3 linked regions of the Homo sapiens genome follow. The protein of the gene in region 3 interacts with the protein of the main gene of each other region in a pairwise test. Each region holds a gene or a part of one and is shown on either strand. Other genes may lie near its edges.

The links.
Region 1: the proteins of CNTNAP2 (region 3) and CNTN1 interact in binary tests that used the Homo sapiens proteins (3 or more experiments, as listed by UniProt).
Region 2: the proteins of CNTNAP2 (region 3) and CTR9 interact in a two-hybrid assay, tested with the Homo sapiens proteins (one study listed by BioGRID and IntAct).

Annotation. Positions count from the first base shown.
Region 1 is NC_000012.12:40,688,375-40,695,438, reverse strand, and holds the start of CNTN1 (contactin-1 isoform 1 precursor), read right to left. Parts: upstream 3,001-7,064; 5' UTR 2,847-3,000; intron 1-2,846. UniProt on the Homo sapiens protein: Contactins mediate cell surface interactions during nervous system development.
Region 2 is NC_000011.10:10,754,221-10,761,245, reverse strand, and holds part of CTR9 (RNA polymerase-associated protein CTR9 homolog), read right to left. Parts: intron 6,289-7,025; coding exon 6,049-6,288; intron 5,569-6,048; coding exon 5,451-5,568; intron 4,498-5,450; coding exon 4,408-4,497; intron 1,074-4,407; coding exon 925-1,073; intron 1-924. UniProt on the Homo sapiens protein: Component of the PAF1 complex (PAF1C) which has multiple functions during transcription by RNA polymerase II and is implicated in regulation of development and maintenance of embryonic stem cell pluripotency.
Region 3 is NC_000007.14:147,127,800-147,134,824, reverse strand, and holds part of CNTNAP2 (contactin-associated protein-like 2 precursor), read right to left. Parts: intron 6,133-7,025; coding exon 5,989-6,132; intron 2,581-5,988; coding exon 2,316-2,580; intron 1-2,315. UniProt on the Homo sapiens protein: Required for gap junction formation. Required, with CNTNAP1, for radial and longitudinal organization of myelinated axons.

The sequences.
Region 1 (7,064 bases), on a different chromosome or scaffold from region 3:
ACAAGATACAAGAGAATACATAGAACCAGTACATAGTCATAATCCCTACTGTAGAACCGAGTCATTCTATGAAAAGATATAGAAACACCTTATGTCATCCATTACTCCTCATGGAGAGGATCATAAAGCCAGAGGAAGTTTCCTCCCAAGGCATAGCCTTCTACCAAAAAAATATCCCCAAATCATTGCTGCACCCATCCAGCTTCTTAGGATGATGCTTCCTGAACAAGAATCTTTAAGGCTACTTATTATAGGACTGTGTTCAATGTGGTGGGGTATACAAAAAGATTATAAGTGTAGTCTTTTTCTGCAAAGTACTTCCTAATTAGAAAACAAATCAGACATACAAATGAGGATTAAGCAACAAAATAAGACTAAGTATGATTAAGTTCCCAAGTGAAAATAGTCTACTAGAGATTCTGAAGAGGAGTGATCGTTTTGTTAGAACCATGAATTTTAAAATGCATTTAGTTGATACATACCTATGTATTGTTATTATTACCAGTAGCCCTGTTTATTAATGACCCACTATGCGCCCATCCCCATGATAGAAACATGCATGCTTTTTATGGCCCTCATAGCAACCTGAAATTTCAATGCTATAAAATTCCTTTTGAAGACAAGAAAACAGATTCTCAGAGTTTAATTATCTTGCTCCAAATCAGATCATCAGGAAGTTGCAGAGCAAAATTAAAAGCCAGCTCGCACTGCCTATGATGGTAACTTGGTAGATTAAATAATTTATCTTCAAAATGACTTGGCAAGTTAGAATTTTGTTCTTAAAACACAGAATTAAATTTTGTAGGGATACATGTCAGACTAGAACCGAATAAACTTGGTTTATATTGTTCCTGGTATCAACATTAACCACATTTTGTTGCCAGGACCAAAAATCCTGGGAAGCTAAAAAGTATTCTATTTGAGGGGAAACTGCTATGCAGTATAATTACACGGCAGGTTGTTGGAATATTAAAGTTTTCAGAAGACTTTCAACCAATCACTTGTGTCTTCTGAATCTTAGTTTCTTCATCTGTGAAAATGGAAAGGTTGTCATCAGGAATAAGTAATTTCAGGGAATGGCAAAGATAAATGCACATACATCAATCTATAAAAGAAAGTTCACATAGTACAAATAGATGTGATATGAAAAAGCAGTACAAATTTAAATATCAGGTCCACATGTAAAATCTGTACAAAGAAATACCTCACATCTACCCCCGCAAGGGTTCTAGCAGTTCCTTAGTCCTGGAAAGTGGGTGGATCCATTCCCAGATCCCCAAATGCTGTTAGCCATAAGTTACCACTGAAATAAATTTACTACCAAATAACCAAACCATTATGCCGAGTCTAATAAAATATCCCAGATACGGCATGTATTAATTTGATTTGCGTTACACTTCGGGCTGGTAAGGTTCATATGTACACTTAGAAACCGAAAAATGCGGCGAAATGGATGAAGATTATATTGGCACTCTAAGAATGTTTGCAAAATACTGAAATATTGAAAACATGAAATATGACATATTGAAAACATGAAATATGAAATATTGATCTTTACGTGAGTTACAAAAACATTATTTCACGCAGGGTTTCAGCAGTCTGAATGCTTCTTCTCCGGCTTTTCCCCCAATGGAGAATTGGATTCCCTTTTGCCCCGCCCACTCAGTGCTTCCAGATTGCTTGAGAAGGCCAAGGCAGCCGGCTCAGCAGCAGGGAAGCCGGGCTGGGTATGCAGGAGCTATATATAGCTCCACCTTGGAGATGTGCACACACAAGCACACGTACGAATACCCATGCCCGGTTTGGCATGAAAATAAATAAATAAATAAGGAAAGGTCGCAGCTATCCGCTTTCCCTCTTTCCCATCATCCCAATTTTTCAGGAATTTTCAAAGCAGGGTGTCATCAGTCCCAGAGGGTGATGCAGCGTCGGATCTCTCTGCAATTCTTCTGCCTACTGCTCCCAGCAATCTGACTCCTGCAGGAACCGGCACTGGGCCAACACCTACTACCCAGATGCGGTCACCTAGGGAGGCAGCCTCGCAGCCGCTCGGAGCCCATCCGGGCACAATCACTTGACTCCCTGGAAATCCCTGAAGCCAAATCCACCTTTCAGAAACTAGGTGTGAAGGTGGTTCCCGTAGACAGCGCCAGGCTAGGAGGGAAGGGGCCGTGGCTCCGCGGTCTCTCCCTCCCACCTGCCGCAGATCGTGGAGAAGGGCCGGTGCCTTCTCAACGGAGACGTAATTAATCGGAACGTGCCCTTCGAGTTGCAGGGATTCTTCCCCACCCCCATCTCCTGAAGGGAGCTAGATCTTAACAGAGGGGTCAGGGGACAAACAAGTCGCTTCCTCCCCTCTCCGCAACCGCTCCCAGGTTTTCCGGGATGCGCTAGCCAGGCGCCCAGGTGGGATGGGAAAGATGAGCAGGTGCGGGCCGGCGTCGGGAGAAAAAGACCTGCAGGCCCCGGGCTGCCGACCTCTCTGCTTCCCCACCCCTCCCCTGCCGAGGCGATATGGCATCCCTGGGGCGAGTTCCCGGCGCTGGCGGCGGCAGCCTCCGAAAGGAAAGTTGACGAGACACAGACCCCGAGCTCGGAGCCCTCTTCTAGGGCACTGCCGTCCTGCCTTGCCCGGCACCCCAGGGCTCCGGCATCCCGCACCCCTGCTTCCCCGCACCCCAGCCACCTCCGCCCCAGTCCTTCCCGCGCCGCACGGCGAGAGCTGCAGGGACCACAGGAGATTTGGGGGTGACGAGGGCTGGGCGGGGCTGGGGGAAGGGAAGCAACAGCATGGAAATGCGCATTCTTTATTTTATCTGCAAAGAAGGAAAAGTCCAGCTTCCTACCTGTTCCCTGCTCCTGCTCGCCTCGGTGCGGCACAGCTGGACCATACCCTACAGGTTTCCCACTTCCGCTGCAAACACCTGGGAGCGCATCTCCCCACCGGCGCCCCTCCTCGCCTCGGCGGAGCCCACCCTGGCTACTTGACAGCAGAAGCCCGGCCTTTTAGGGCGGTTATTGGGGCAGCAGGGAAAGTGGGGCGGGGACCACAGGGAAACCCGCTTCTCTGATTGGACAACAGGGATATCACTCTCACCCCCAGGACCAGCGCAGGCTGCAGACTTGGGTAGCTGCTAAACCCAACTGCAAAGGGTCTCTGCAGTGCCTGAAACCCAAACCTGCTGCTACCGGATCAAGGACCCTTGCTGGAGAGAAACTGGTTTGATGACTTGTCATTTGGGGCCCCAAGAGGGAGGGAGGGTCCAGGCATAACTAGACACCCAGCACTTTCCTGAAGCTTCCCTGAAGGGACCATCTGCTCCGGGAGATTTGTCAGGCGAAAATACCAAGCCAGCGCCTCATAGAGAAGAATGAGCTTCGATTAGGAAATAATAAGATACTTATGTGGGAAAAAATACACACACAGAAAGGAAAATAAAACGATGTGAGGTTTTTTTTTAAAGTTTCCATTTTTGTCCAGATGTAACATGGCAGTTTTTCTTGAGAAAAGACGGAATTGCTTAGTCTGTAATGCAGAAGACCCCCTAATATTCCCTGGTAGAAACAGTGTTTTAAACGGGAAAGCACTGCATAATAACCTCTCAAAAAAAAAAAAAGGGTAAAAGAAATTAAGGCCAAACTGCATGAGAGATTTGCTTTGGGGCAGTTCAGTTTGTGGCAAAAGTCTTAAAATAATCACCATTAGACTGATTGATAATTAAGTGATCTGTTACTTTTCTATTGATAGTAGTTTATCATTTCTTTAGTACTCAGACACTGAGAGGATGTTTATGCCCCCAAACCTAAGTGATCCCAAGCCTGCCTTTTATGTGAAGGGAACAGGGTAAAATAACTTTGTGTCCAGTTGCCATCTCTGCCATTTATTCAGGTGGAATCTGGAAATTTTGGAATTCAAGAGACTCCTTAAATGAAGGAACGTGCTAGAACTACCACGTGTAAAACTGGGAGTGTAGGGTGTCTTAGTATATAGTACCATGTGAGGAATCAAGTTGCCTTCTGCCTGCAAATAGCCACATTCTTCTTCTATCTGAATTAAGTAGCCATCTTAAGTGCTGAGCATAAGACACAACTCTCATTCTCACAGAGCTTCAAAGAGCTTATGACAGGCTTGGGACACTGGACAACTGTTAGAGAAGATGACATTGCTATTAATAAATATAGACTCTACTTAGTGGTTACGGTTGTTATTACTATCATCAGGTAAGGCTCTTCATAATGTTTTCTTCATAATACTGAAGGAATCCGATTAATGCATTTGAAGGTGGGGGCCGGGCGAGGTGGCTCATGCCTGTAATCCCAGCACTTTGGCAGGCGAGGCAGGCGGATCACAAGGTCAGGAGATCGAGACCATCCTGGCTAACACGGTGAAACCTCGTCTCTACTCAAAAAAAAAAAAAAAAAAAAAAATACAAAAAATACAAAAAATTAGCCGGGCATGGTGTTGGGCGCCTGCAGTCCCAGCTACTCAGAAAGCTGAGGCAGGAGAATGGCGTGAACCCAGGAGGCGGAGTTTGCAGTGAGCGGAGATTGCGCCACCGCACTCCAGCCTGGGCGACAGAGCGAGACTCCGCCTCAAAAAATAAAATAAAATAAAATAAAATAAAATAAAATAAAATAAAATAAAATAAAATAAAATAAAATAAAATAATAAAATAAAATAAAATAATGCATTTGAAGGTGGGAAGGGACCCTGGAGAAAATTTACAGTGAACAAATAGATATTATTTGTGTGGTGACAACCATCTTAACACTGAATGGAAATGACTAAATATGCCGTGGCAAAATTTCAGAACCCCTGTGTCATTTCTTACACAATACTCCTATTAGTCATGCACCTCTGTCCCAGGTACTCACACCAGTTATTCCATTGGATTGGCCAAATCATTCATGAATTACTGAGTACTTTTTCAATGCCATACCCTGTGTTAGGTGCTACAGAACTAAAGCAGAATAATGTATTGGACACATTAAAGATGATCTCAGGAAGCAATTACAATAGTAATATTTCTAAGGAATGTGTGTTTGCAACACGAACATCTTTTGATTCCTAAGCATAAATTATTTTGAGTCAAAATGAGCTTCAACATACTCTCCTCTAGAGGTAATCAGAGGAGAAGAAAAAGTATCAAAGAAAATACCTAAATATTGAAGACAACACAAGAATTGAAATTGGTAATGAAAAGAAAACTAAAGACATCTCTGCTATCTGCGTTCTTTCATTGCTTCACTCATTCATTCCTTCAACAAATATTACTATTATAAATGTGATGGTGAATAAAATAGGCAAGCTCTCATGGAACACATTCTTTATTCTTCAAGCAGACAATGTTACTTTGTGCATTTACTGTGATCTAATTAGCAGCTTTGTGTGTACATGCAAACACAACTCTGGAACAGTATTAAGATAATTTCTCTCTGGATCAGGCATCTCACACATTTTCAAGTAAAACAGAGCATTTTCAGGTTATTGCTTATTATCTCAAAGAGAAAAACCTGTACATATGTTCCCACAATACAAATGAATATGTCAAAGGTATCTGCTGCTGCAGAACATTTTAGATTTTCCAAATCACTTTCAGATACAATTTCCCTCTGTGTTCTAAAATAAGCAGGAGAGTCATCATTAGTCGCATTTCACCATGAGGAAATTGAGTAACCAAAGAGAAATGTGGTCCTTCAAAAACAAAGGCAGTAAACTATTATAGGTGGGTATATAATGCTTGGCATATTGCAGACATCTAATATGTATTTGCTGACAAATATATGGTTTTGAAAATATGAAAGTTTGAAGGATCTTAGAAAGTATTGAACTCCTTGTAATGCCAGCACTTTGGGAGGCCGAGGCAGGCAGATCATCGGAGGTTGGGAGTTCGAGACCAGCCTGACCAACATGAAGAAACCCAGTGTCTACTAAAAATACAAAATTAGCTGGGCATGCTGGCCCATGCCTGTAATCCTAGCTACTCAGGAGGCTGAGGCAGGAGAATCTCTTGAACCTGGGAGACGGAGGTGGTTGCGGTAAGCCGAGATGGCACCATTGCACTCCAGCCTGGGCAGCAATGGGAGCAAAACTCTGTCTCAAAAAAAAAAAAAAAAAGAAAAGAAAAAGAAAGAATTGTTGAATTCCACTCATTATTCTGTGAGGGAGGGACAGAATTTGCTTAAGGTCATGTGACTAGTTAGGGGAAAGCTGCAGCTAGACCCCAGGTCTTAAGACTTCATTCATTACTTTTTCTACCACATGAACAATAAGAGTTTTGGTATTTCTTTCAGCAGAGTTCCTTCTCTTTTTCCTCCCTGTATCATCCAGCCTTTTGATGTTTTCAGGACTGATCCAGCTGGTGTACTCATCTTCCAGCGTCTATAAAAATATGTGAAAGCATGCCACTTTAACTATAAATTCAGCTCAGATTCAACGTGCTTGTAAGTTTGAGGTCGGCTTCATGAGTATGGGATCAGAGTCATCAGGACTGGTGTCGAGGTATGAAGAAAGCTGTTGGAAAATGAATGGCCAGCTGGCACTTCTGTCCCTAAAATTAGGAAGAAGGGAATTATAGAAACAATAGTCTGAAGGCTTCCAATCTGGCAGTCTGGTATAGAACCTGTCTGCAGATCTTCAAAAGAAACAGTAGGACAATTTTGTCATGTGCCCTGGATGGCTCTGACTCCCTAGTCACTTACAGAGTTCCATAGTACAATTTACTGGGCATTGCTTTGCTAAACTGCCCTTGGCCTTATTGAATTCTCCTGTCTTCCCCTCCTTTTTCCACCCTGCACTGGCCCTCCTTCTTCAAACATTCCAATTTCCTCCAACTAGTGATTAAACCTCAGTGAAGGGAAAGGAAACTACAGCAACAGTGCAGCTTTCCACAGCATGTACTCCCTTTCTTTCTCCTCTGCTCCGCCCACCGTTTCCTCACTTCTCCAGGCTTCCCAGAACAATTTCTAACATACTCGATATGGCAAAAAAGCAGGAGAGTAAGGAAAACGGGCCTTTTCCAATTAATATTTTAAGCTGCAATTACCACAGCAGAAAGGTAACC
Region 2 (7,025 bases), on a different chromosome or scaffold from region 3:
TTTCCTCTGGCCTAAGGTAGTGGTTCTCAACTGGGGATGAAGTCATGTTTGGTTATCACAATTGGAGGAACGCTATCGGCATTTAGTGGGTAGAGGCCCGGGATGCTGTTAAAACATTCTATAATGGAAGGGACAGTTCCCCACAACAAAGAATTATCCAGCCCAAAACATCAATAGTACTGAGGCTGAGAAACCCAGGTATCCCTGTTTTGGACAATTATACATAAGGGGAAGCATGATGGAGAGCTTCCTTCTCAATATAAGACAGGGCTTCTCTAAGAGAAAGCCTTTTTATCCTTTCTCTTTCCTCCCTCTTTATAAGACCGATGTAATAATGAGAAGCTGGAGATGCTGCAGCCATCTTGTGACTATAAGGTGACAGACATGATGAAGAAAGGCTGCACATTAAGGAAGGGAGGACGGAATTATATAAAATCATAGGTTTGACGACAAGGACCTATCAAATTTGAGACCTTTGACAACTGGTTTAGTAAACACTAAAAGCCCTTATGTTTAAGGCACTGGGATGTGTTTTTTGTTACGTGCAATGAAAGCATTCCAAACTGATATACAAGTCTACGACCCCTTATCTGAGATTCTGAAATCTAAATGCCTTAAAAAACAAGTTTTGTTTTCTGTTTTTTTTTTTTTGGTAATCTTGGAGCAAACTTATTTGGTGGCAATACTACCTGAATTGTAACCCTATCCTACTAGTGTAAACAGTCTATCATTTTGCCACAGAAATATAAGTTTGCTTTTGGGGTAGTGCCCCAATAACTAGGTGTTATACATTACAAAGTACAGGTACCCTTCTGTAATCTGTAATCTTAATTTCTAAGACACATCTGGCTCCAAGAGTTTTAGATAAGAGGCTGTGGGCCTGACAAAGCAGTTAGGAGCTAGATACTTTTTTCATTTACATACCTCTTTATTGTTGAGTTCTAGAACAGCCAGTCCAACCAATGCTCCCACGCATTTGGAATTGAGTTCCAGGGCTCTGCTGAATGCCAGACGAGCTTTTTCCAGTTTGTTAAGTTTCACAAAGCAATGACCCATTCCTAAACGAACTTCCGCTATAAAATGAAGTCATTCAATCTATCAAACTAGGGCATTTTTTAGAGTTCAATTACAAAAATGCTTAAACATTCTCTATTTATGAGTTGCAAAATCCCCAAAATTAACCTCAGTATAACTACACTACAGAATCTTTTGACCTATCACAAACTTGGTTTCCTTGGAGGCTACATCATACCATATTCCAACCCTCTCCTCTATCACTGACACATTTCTCACTATAGAACAGAACACCTATAATACTGGTATTCTTCTTGTCTTCTAACATCGCTGCTAACCATACCTTCAATTTCTCATTATTGAAGAACAATTTTTAAACAGAGAACAAAAGTTCCACTAAGACCTTAAATAATATGACTGATTATGGGCACATACCATTGTTCCTTTCAAAGCTATGCTCATATGTGCTACCTCATTTAAGGCCATGCCAAAACACAAACAAGTTCCCATCTAAAGCCAATCACCATACTGGTCACTAGATGCCCTCTTATCTATTTAAGAATACTGCTCCAGCAACCCTCCCCTATTTTTTCTCTCTACTGGATCATTCATTCTCATCTACACATAAACGTTCTGCCATCTTATACAAATCCTCTCTTGATTCTATATCCCTTTCCAGTTGTCGATCATGTCTGTTCTTCAATAGCAAAACTCCCAGAATGATCTAGCTACGCTTGCTATGTCTAATTCCCTTCCTTCCATTTTCTCTTGAATACACTCCAGTGAAGCTCTCACCCCACCATTCCAGTAAAACTGCTTTTATCAAGGTCACTATGGATTTGTATGGTGCTAAATCCAATGATCAATTCTGTGTCCCTATTTTACTTGACCTAACAACAGAATTTGACACTGTTGGTCATCATCTTCTTCTGGAAACATTTTACATTTGCCTTTAAAGACAATGCACTTACCCTATTTTCCTCCTATACCTCTGGCTATTATCTTCTCAGTCTCCTTTGCTGATTCTTCCTCATTTCCCTAATCTCTTAATATCAGAGTGCTCTAGGGCTCCACCTCTAGACCTCTTTTCTATTTGCACTCATTCACAGCTTTATACACTATCTATATGTTGATGACTTCAGCCCAGACCTCTTTCCTGAATTCCAGCCTTTCTGCTGTCTTCACTTTGTCAATTTTAAATAACGGGATTTGGAAAATATGATTAAGTATAGAGTGTATTGGAGTGCAAGGTGTAAGAATGGCCACCAGAAAAGTACTGACTCCAAATGAATGATATCAGCATTTTCCAAAGTGAAAAAGTTAAGGTTTTAATTATTTGGGGGAAATAGAGAAGTTCTAGTAGGATTGTAACATTCTAAAATATAACACCAGGTGCCTATGTCACAGCAATTTGATTGGTTACAAATTGCTATATTCTAAAAAGATTATTTTATTGCTCCATGTGAGGGGGATCTTATTTCTGGCACCATTTGATCTTAATTGTTTACAGAAAAAAAAAGGCAGAAATTGCAACTGCATGCCACGTGACTCAGGTTGTATAGCCACATTCTTCTCAAGGCTCAGGATAAAGCTCTAAAAGCTTTAAGGCTGAACTGCTTAATTTGACAACTTATATGTCTAAAAGGTATTTCAAACTTTTCAGGTCTAAAACTAGTTCCACTTAAACTATTTCCCAAATATAGTAAAATATAACTCTACTTTTCCAATTGCTTGTGCAAGGGAGTTATCTTTGACTCTTCCTCTCTGTCTTATACATCATAGGTACTCCATCAGCTCTCCTTTCAAAATACATGTAGAATCTGACCACTTGTACCAACTCCACTATTACCTCCCTAGTGTGAGCCACAATCACCTCTGACCTGCCTGTCTGCAGATGCCTTCTCCCTGCTCTCCCTACTTCTGTCCTTGACCCCCTCCCCTTGAGCCCCACTCTAGTCTCAACCCCAAAGCTCAAACGAACCTTTTAAATATAGGTCAGATCACGTCACTCTGCTGCCCAAGGCCCTCCAATGGCTTCCCATCTCTGTCGATGTAAAAACTAAAGTCCTTACAATAATCTGTGATGCCCTACGTGATTAGTCAGTCCCTGGTTATAGCTTTGACCCCATTTCTTACTACTTTCCCCCCAACTCTTTCTCTCTCTATTCCAGAAACAATGGCCTCCTTACTCTTCCTTAAACTTACCAGGCACTCTCTTTCCTCTGGACCTTTGTACCTTCTATGCTCTCTCTCTAGGAGTGGTCTTCTCCTATATATCTGCATGGCTGCTAGTTGTTTTTTAGGTCTTCACACAAATGTCACTATCTCTGATGAGTTTCCTTGGTCATCCTTTCTAAGCAATTCCTGATGCTTCTCATACCCTTTTTCTGCTTTATTCTTCTCCTTGGCTCTTACTGGTAGCTTACACATCATACATACTTTACTATTTATCTTGCCCACTGAAAACTGGACTCCATGAGGGCAGGAACTTTTGTCTCTTTGGTTAATTGCTACATTCTCAGGGTTTAGAACACTGCCTGCCACATAGTTGGTACTCAGTAAAAATTTGCTACATGAATGACATTTTGGAAAGAAAAATAGTATAGGGCAAAAAGATTATATTATAATCTACTATCCAGACTTTTTTTTTCTTGAGACAGGGTCTTGGCTCTGTTGCCCAGGCTGGAGTGCCGTGGCATGAACATGGCTCACTGCAGCCTCAAATGCCTAGGCTCAAGTGATCTTCCTGCCTAGCCTCTTGTGTAGGTGCGACCACAAGCACTACCATGTGCGGCTGATTTTCTGTAGAGATGGGGGTCTCCCTTTGTTGCAAAGGCTAGTCTCAAATTCCTGGGCTCAAGCAATCCTTCTACCTCACCCTCCCAAAGTGCTGAGATTACAGGTGTGAACCAGTGCAGCCAGACCCTATCTATTTTTTTTTCCCCTTGAGACAAGGTCTTGTTCTGTTGCCCAGGCTGGAATGCAATGGCACAATGATGGCTCACTGCAGCCTCAACCTCCCAGACTCAAGCGATCCTCCAGCCTGAGCCTCCTAAGGAGCTGGGACCACAGGTGTGTGCCACCATGCTCATGTAACTTTTTTATTTTTTGTAGAGACAGGGTCTTACTACGTTGCCCAGGCTGGTCTCAAACTCCTGGGCTCAAGTAGTCCTGCCTCTGCCTACCAAAGTGCTGGGATTATTGGCATGAGCCATTGCACCTGGCCTTACTATCCAGCTTTTGACTCAAACATAGCATCAAAAAAAAAACTTGATTCTGACATTTCTATAATCCAACAATATCTTTTCATAACTTCATAAGCAACTGACAAATCCTCAATGCTTTAAGCTGGGTAATACACAGTTTAGACATAAAATAAAATTTTTCTCTTACCTGGACATCCTGGGTTAGTACGCAATGCTTTCTTATAGTAAGCAAGAGCTCCTCTGTAATCCTTCTTGTTGAAGGAAATGCAAGCTTTACCTGTAATGATTTTTAAAAATAAACACAGTGTCTGATTAAAGGCTACAAGTCTATTATGTTTTACACTAACTTATCTAAGTTAAATACATCTCTGAGTGAGAAATACTTGAAAACACAGAACAAAATTTCATATTAAAAATTTGTTTTTCATAAAAGTATACTAATTTATGTCTAAAAATAAAACTTCCTATTTTTATGTTAAATGTTATAAAGTTAGCAAACTAACATAGGAACAGAAAACTGAATACTGCCTGTTCTCACTTATAAGTGGGAGCTAAATGATGAGAACACATGGACACAGAGGGGAACATCACATACTGGGGCCTTTTGGAGGGTGGAGGGTGGGAGGAGGAAGAGGATCAGGAAAAATAACTAATAGGTACTAGGCTTAATACCTAAGTGATGAAATAACCTGCACAACAAACCCCCATGACCAAGTTTACCTATGTAACAAACCTGCACTTGTACCACTGAACTTCAATAAAAGTTTAAAAAATGTTATAAAGTAATAATTGAAATAACTTTAAGTTGTCTAAGTAGAGATTGTTTATTGGCTCTTCAGAAGTGTATAACCAATTACTCTTTTTTGAAAAAATTATTTTTTGTAGAGATGGGGTCTTGCTATGTTGCCCCAGCTCGTCTTGAACTCCTGGCCTCAAGTGATCCTCCTGCCTCAGTCTCTCAAAGCGCTGGGATTACAGGTATAACGAGACAGGGTCTCAAAGTGCTGAGATTATACCATGCCTGGCCTAAATAATAAATTATTCTTAACTGGTATATATTTTATTTCTACAATTTCAACAATATTTGTTGTAGGTAATTTCATTTGTAACAACATAAAGCTCTTCTACTTTGCTGTCTAGCTGAGTTATTAAGGAGCTATTACCAAGAGATATATTCTAGGCATATGCTGAAAACAACTGTTTCCTAACATGTTGCCAAAGACCACTTACCAAGAAGGGCTGGAATATTATTTGGAGACTGATTGAGTACAAAATGAAACTGTGCATCAGCTTGATCCATTTTGTCACCCTCAAGTAGGCAGAAGCAGGCTCTTCCCAACAAATGGTTCTATGAAGTAATGTATTATCTTAGATTTTACCCCTATATACCATGAACATGTAACACTAAAGTGAAAACCAAATAGGAAGGAGGTGGAGCACAGTGCAAATTCCCCTATCAAATGTAACGTGCTTAAGCTACTAACAAGCAATTCTTAATTACAAAATAAGAAATTATCCTGAAATGTAAGTCTTCTGTGCCAATAACAACAACCAAAAGAAAAATTTAAATTCCTTAAAATATCCTTGAAATTCACCTGGAGATAATAAAATTACTGGAGCAAGTTTTATGTACTACATTTGTCCATATTACTTAAACAGTACAAAAACCAAAGCATTCCGATTTTAATGAGGAACCTTTCTTCTTTTTGACTCTATCAACCATGTTACTTGAAGAAAAACTCTTTCAAAAAATCTGCTATCACACACATTTTGCTTTCATGTGCTTTTCTCCCTTCATAAATGGAAAGAAATTTGACTTTATTTTTACCTGATCATACATAATAATTTTATCGGCCATTGTATACAACAAGGTGGCCTGTGTAATAAGATCCTTTTTATTGTCCTTATTCTTTTCTTTCCGAGCCTGTTGTACATAATACGCTGCCAATGTATCCAAGCAAGTCATCTGGTCTTTTTCATGGTCTCTATAGTCCAAATTGCCATCTATACGTGCTGCTTCCAACAATTTTACAAACTCTTCTGTTTTTCCTTGCTTGTAGTATTCCAGCTATAAGGTAATGAAACAAATTAGAATCACTAAAGCATATGTCCATATAAAAAGTTGTACACAAATGTTTACAGCAGCTTTATTTGTAATAACAAAAAACTGGAAACAATCAAAATGTTGATTAACAGGTGAATGGATAAACAAGCTGTGGTGTATCCATAAAATGGATACTATCCTACAATGAAAAGGAATGAACTACTGATACATGCTACAACATGGATAAATCTCAAAATAATTATGCTGAATGAAAGAAATCAGACCAAAAAAAGAGTACATATTGTGTGATTCCATTTATATAAAACTCTAGAAAATGTAAAACAATCTCTAGTGTCAAAAAGCAGACCAGTGGTTGTCTGGCACAGGGATTAGGGGTGGGGTGGGGGACTTGTGGGGAGTGGTACAGAGGACACTTTCAGAAGGTGATGAATGTATTCATTAATCTTGATTGTGGTGATGGTTTCACAGGTATATACAGATGATAAAACTTATCAAATGGTAAATGTCAAATATGTGCAGTTTATTATAAATCCATTAGACTTTAATAAAACTGTTTAAAAAACTGGAATCATTCACAATGTTCCCAATCTGCTGCTTATCTAGTTGATTTCTAACTAAAATTTTCAGATAAGTAGAGCCTAAGAGAGAAAACAATAGTGAAAGATATGAAGAATTCTAAATAGAAAACTTGGGTTCTGGTTCTAGATCTACCAAAAATTATCTGTGATTTGGGCCTGTTT
Region 3 (7,025 bases):
TGATAAGAGTAGAATAGCTGTGATACAGATATATTTCCCTTTGTTAAAGCAAACATTAGAATCCTGACTTAACTGTTTTCTCAGTGTTGCCACTTTACTAACTTATTTACACATTTAATTGAATTTGATAAAATACATTAAAAGACAGAGGAAATTATGTCCTATGGTTTCCATATGTACTTTTAGATTGAATGAATGAATATAAAATATAACTTTTTTAAATGGTTGAATTTTTTTTTCAACTAATGTTTCTCAAATATGAGCACTTAGTTTCCACTATGTATGTATGTGTGTATGTATGTCTGTATATATATATATTTATATAAAATGCTTGAAGCAGTAAGGTATTTTCACTGGATTATAGAAGGGTAATACTACGGAAATCTTTAGATTTTATATCTTTTCAATTAATTTGCACAGATTCTTGGCTAAATTGACAAAAACTCTTCAGTCCATTTTTATTAGGTTTAAGCAAATCTATTAAGGTGAATTAACTGTCATGTATTGGATTTCTTTGTTCATTCTATCTTTAATTTTCAAAATAAACACAGCTTAAATTAGGTGAGAGTATCTTGGAGTACTAAATTACACCAAATCAAATTAATACATGTTTATTGACCACTAGGGTTAATATCTTATCCTTTCAAATATATTGGCTCCTGTTACATGGAAACCCACCAGCAAATCGGATTTGCTCAGAGACTGCAAGGAGACAGGCCTTCATACTAATATTTTTATGTTTAGTCATTAGGCAATAATCATTAATCATAACAATATAATGTGGGAGTTTTTCAACTGTGGCAAACATTTGCTTTTGTTTTTGTTTTATCTGTTTTTCTGGTCTCTCCAGATATTTTCGATTTGCTGTAAACCTCCCTAGGTATACTTATAAACGAATGTAGTGATAAAATATGGTTGATTAATCATTTTGACTAGACATTCAAGGAAAAAGCAAAACTAATAAAGCAGAAATGGAGAAAGTGAATAACTAGGTATTTCCCAATACCTTTGATTTCAATAATTTAGGCACATCTCTGACATAACATTTCTTGTGGCTTCCTTGAATCCTTTTCAGTAATAGACCATACATTCAGGCCACACACAAACATAAAGCCTATTTTACAAGAAAATATATATGTTCTATAGCAGGGGATATTCTGTTAGTTGAAAGGGGTCAGAGTATTGAATTCAACAAATATTGGAGAGCACCTCTTACAGGTACTATTCTATATGCCAGAGACAGAAGAAAAAGGAGCATGGTCCCTGCTGTCAAGGAGCATGGAGCCTAGAGGGGAAAAGAGAGGGACAAAAATCATAGTGTGTTAGAAACCGTGTCAGGTATATGCATAGGGTGCCATGAGAGTATATGGCATATTCAGAAATCAGAGTCCATGGTCACCCAATTGAGCTCTCTGTCATGACTCCTTTCAGTATCTGCTACATCTGTACTAAGTGTTCAGTAAATGTTAGTTTTCTTTGTATCTCCCATTTCTAAGTAGTTCTTCACAATATATATGTATGACTATTGCAAAGACTATCTCAAGAAAAATAGATGAAAACAGTTACTATTTATCAGTCCAATATTGAGACTAATTTTTCTTTGCTTATAACATCACAATTTACAATGTCACCTTTCTTTGTACTGTATTTATCAAAGAACTTCCAAGGTTGCGAAGTCTATTCAAATAACAAGAATATTACCTAAGCCTCTATTTGTCATATCACTACAAAGCCAAATTTAAAATTATCCTATTTTTGCCTAAGCCAGTCTTCCGTCAGTTGATACACAAATCTTGTCATTCCACCTTTATATTCACTTTCGTTTTCTTTTCCAACCATTTGCATAATTTTAGCAAGATCATTTTGAAGTTCTGATTCCAGCAGTGGAATATTCCTTAAAGTTAAAATTAGTATAATCTTGTTACTAATAGTAAAAGGTACACGAATGTTGATAAAGAGAAAAGATACCAGATACAATTGTGTTTTTAAAATAAACATTCCTTGTTTTTAAACATAAATTATTCACTTAAAAGAAGAGCAATTTATCTATTAAAAATAAACTAGCATTGGTAAGGAATAGATTTTGCTTTTCCAATCTCAACCAATTTTCTCCTTCACCCATGCCTTGCTCTCTCAACAACTTTCCAAGTTTTCTTTATTCAATCAGCACACACTACAACCAAGTAAGCGTCTTGAAGATCTGAATTAAAACCTAATCCTGAGCGTGTAACACCAGCAAAACCAAACAAAGCACAACATTAACTCTGGAAATTGCAATAAGTTTCAGGAACAAATGTCAAATAGGTTTCACTGACCTGAGGAAATATCGATTTGGCTCATCTTGGTCTGTGTGATGTTGATGTGAACACCCACTTTGCTTTCAGTGAGGTCAATCTCCACATTGCCCAAATTATCCGCAAAGTGACTGAAGACCAGGAGACCATTGGGGTTCCATGTCCTAAACTGGAAACTGACTGAGAACAGGTCCTGGTTAAGCCGTCCGGGCACCTCCAGGTAACTTGTAGCGTTGAAAAAGACAGGCACCGTATAGGGTTCCACACAAGAAAAGCTCAAATTTCCCTGTAAAATAGAAAGACAGGCTCTGAGGAAAACACAGAATAAAATGAACATCCATGTCAGACCACTGATGAAAGTATAGTTCTACAAGTTTTGAAGCACAGCCTGAGCCTAAGCTAAACTCACACACAGCAGCAGAGCATGGATTCAGTGACTGGATGCACCACTACGGATCTACTTGGAGTGTAAGACCTACTACTGAGCAGCAGTTGGCTGTCTAACTATAACAAGCAGCTTCCACCATGGGATTGACAGCCAGACAGCCTGATGTGATAGGCTGACCATGAGTTGTAAAGTGTGTATGTGTGTTGTGGGTGTGACTGTGGATCACTAGACTTTCTGAAGACAGCAAAGCTACTGCTGGCCGAACATAAGTCAGGGAGAGAGATGCTCTGTCCTATTCTGGGTGGTCAATGCCAACATTAATTAACATATTACTCTGGTCTCAGTGGGGACTATGGTCATATGTTTGCAATTTATGAAACTGATATTTTAGGGAAATATATTTGGATTTTTATCTATATACCTTGTATATGCATATATAGATAGATAGATATTAAGTTTTCAGCATTAATGTAATTGTGGTTGTTGGAGATTATTTTAGTATCCAACTCAAAATCCCATTTAAATTCCCATGAATTGTGCTTATATCACAATGCATTAATTCCTGTATAACTAGCACTATAAATGGGCTAAATGGAGATAAAATTTGCAATAATTCAGGCTTTCCCCTCCCCTTCTATACTCCTCCTCCTTGGTATAAGCAAAAGAAAAAAAAGAAAAAAATATTTATCATTCAGATACACTAAATTGTATATTTCAGTGCCTAACTACATTCTCTTTACAGGTCTAAAAATCTGTATTTGCTTCTAACTTCTTTTATCCTATCATAATATTTTAAGGAATGTAATTGGATGATATTTTCATTGGTTCTATCTCTATGTCTGTCTCTCTTTTTCTCTATATATTTTTAACAACACCATATATATGTATATGGTATATGTATATGGTATACATGTGTATGGTATATGTATATGTATATGGTATACATGTGTATGGTATATGTATATGTATATGGTACATATATATGTATATGGTACATGTATATGTATATGGTATATATATGTATATGGTATATATATGTGTGTGTATATATACACATATATACATATATATACACACATATATATACACATATATATATGTGTATATATATATATACCTGATGCTGATTTCTTCCATTTTAGCACAATAACCATTAAATCTAAGGCAGGCAGTCTCTCTGAATTAATATTCAAATTAAATTTGCTCTGTACCATCACAGATGATTATTTTTAAATGCTCGCTTTTACTGATAAAAAGAACTGCCTATGCATAATAATTGAGATTTTATAACTGACCACATACCTCTTTTGAGGGGATTGTCTCCCTAGCAAAATTAAAGATCCTTCCAGAGTAACGGTGCTGACTTTGGAGTCAATGCATAATGAGGGAATGAGTATGTGGGGGAAGAGGAGGTAGAATGAGTGCTCAGTCAATTTCACTGAAATACCAGCACCCAACATCTTTGAAAGTACATTTCTTATATAAACACTTGTCTTTGCAGGGTTGCTTGCAAAATGTCCTATTTGTCTCTATCCCATCTAAGATTTTCTGTATGTATGTATATTTTGATTCAAAAGTTTATTCTATGTTTTCTCACTGCAATTATTTGTTAAAATAAAATGTAATTATAGAGCATAATCAAACTCACATATTGTGAATCCATAATCTTTTTTTATTCTTTTATTTTTGGGGGGACAGAGTCTCAGTCTGTTGCCCAGGCTGGAATGCAGTAGTTCAATCATGGCTCACTGCAGCCTCAAACTTGTGGGCTCAAGTGATCCTCCTACCTCAGCCTCTCAAGCAGCTAGGACTACATGCATGCACCATTATGCCCAGCTAATTTTTTAATTCAATTTGATTTATTTTTTTAATTTTAATTTTCTTAACTTGTTGTAGAGACATGGTCTCACTATGTTGCCCAGGCTGGTCTCAAACTCCTGGACTCAAGTGATCCTCCTGCCTTGGCCTCCCACAGTGTTGGGATTACAGCAGCAACCCACTATACCAGGCTATACATCTATCTTTTTATCTCCTACTCATAAAATAAAAGTTATTTTTCTCATAAAATAACTTATTTTTTCCATGTTAAATCGCAATGTTTTCATCTACAAAATGTTTGTATCCTTCTTGCAGTATTGTTCTCAGATCATCCTAAATATAAAATACGACTTGCCTAGCACAATACCTGTTGCCTATAAATGGAGCTATTATTATTTTTCCATAGTCAATATACTTTATGAGAAAATTTAACCAAAGTTCAAGTTTTAATTTCTAGTATAAATTTATGATTACTTTAAGAAAATTATTTATTAAATAATCATTTGCATGAAGTTATTGTTTTAAACCTTCCATATTCAACCTGAACTGTTTATTCATTCAGGGATTTCCATTTGTCAAATCATTTTATGAAACCCTGGGCTCAAATTTGAGGCAACGAGACCATCAGAGCTCTTTTGGAGCACAGTGCAAACACTCATGACATTATTGTACTTATAGTGCATAATATCTTCTTATTGTATGGGTCTCTGGAATTCTAAGCTCTCCCAAATAGCCTCTCTGGGCTAAAGCAGCTCCTGGTCTTGCAGAGCCATAGGGAACTCTCATACTAAAATTGCAAACTAAGTGTCTTTTAGGGATGTGGAGTAGTGTCGTTTGGAAGCATGTGTGCTGGGGCTTTCTTTGACTTTTGCTCTCCTTCCAAAATCTAATGAAACCTGGCACCAACTCACACAAAAGGCAGAAAAAAATCACTGTGAACTTCTGTGGCACAGCTTTGGCTATGCAGTGGAAATCAAGCTTTATTTAACTGTGTAATATTTAGTCTGGTTAGAGATTTGCTAAAAAGTGTATTTATTTACATATTCAAACAAATCATCTTTGGAAGCACAGGAGTAAATATAATAAAGTCCCTGATTTAAAAACTTTAAAAATATTAAATTAAACCATAAGCAAGTAACTTAGAGCACATGTGATGAGATATTTGAAAACACGATGCTGCCGGTTTAAGGGCTGCTAACTGCTGGGATGAAGCACGTGCCACGAGTCATCCAGAAATATTGAGTCTAACATTCTGTGCTCCGTGGGAATAAAACCAACCACCTACTTCAAGCTAGTCCCATTAGCTATTCTCAAAGAATAGCAAGTATCTATACTAATTCTGATAACTCTAATGTTTGTTTTACATCATTTTGCCCAAACACAAATATGATGAAAAATGTCATGATTTTGTTGTTGTTCAATAATCCAAAAAACAAAAATGTTACTTGATATTTTATAGACCAATATTTTGCGGGTGAAAATCCTTACCACATTTGAGGGCTCTAATTTCTTCCTTCTGGCAAGATCAGTAATGTTGACGCCATTGTAGTTGATGCTTTCCATGCAGCCTTTGAAATTCTTTCTACTGCTGGAGCTGGGCTTGCCAGAGAAAGGGATGCCTCCAAAGGTTATCTTTGAGAAAAAGAAATTAAATGTAAACGTCCACATTGTATTATGATGAACTAGACAAAACTATGAATACAGTGAAGGTCAAGTATCTATACCTCAACCAAAATATACAAATATTATAGCATTCTGCCTCCAAAATCTATGGCATATTAAATTATGTTGTTGTTGAAGTGTCTAATGGAGTCATTCATTCTGATAATTAGATTATAACTTGAACAAAAAAAAGCAATGATCCTTTGCAATTTTACTGCCCCAAAGGCATTTTATAAATTTTCTTGAGAATATTTTAAAAGATTTTTATTCAGCAAACTTCTTGTATCAAATAATATTAGAAATATATTTTTATGTTTATCATTCAAAGACATACTATCAATAAATGCCTCCAGTAAGCATGAGATAATCAGCACTAATTTAATAAGCTGATAAAACTGCAGCCCAAAGCAAGGGATATCGTATTTACCCTATGCAGACTTGTAGTCTAATGACCATTATTGTCAAAAATTCATTAGATTTATTTTGGATGTAGAAAATAGTTCAAAAAATATCATTACAATATTGATTAGGGACCACTTAGGATTTGGGAACTCAAAGTTGAGCTGTGTAGGCTTAAAGATATTATAGGTCTTTTAAATCTTAAGAAATAAGACAATGCTACTTACTGTGTTTCTCTGGCTGCTATCGCTTATAGAAAGAAAATATCCATTTCTTATACATTTTTGATCAATATACACTATAGCATTAAATTTATATGATACAAAATTGCATTTAGTATTTGCATGGTCAAGGATGATATTTACTATGAATAGTGAATTAGTAGTAAATGAAGCCAACCGCTAATTATAATATCAAGATATACAATACTTGTAATATATATCTTTTAAATTATCATACAATAT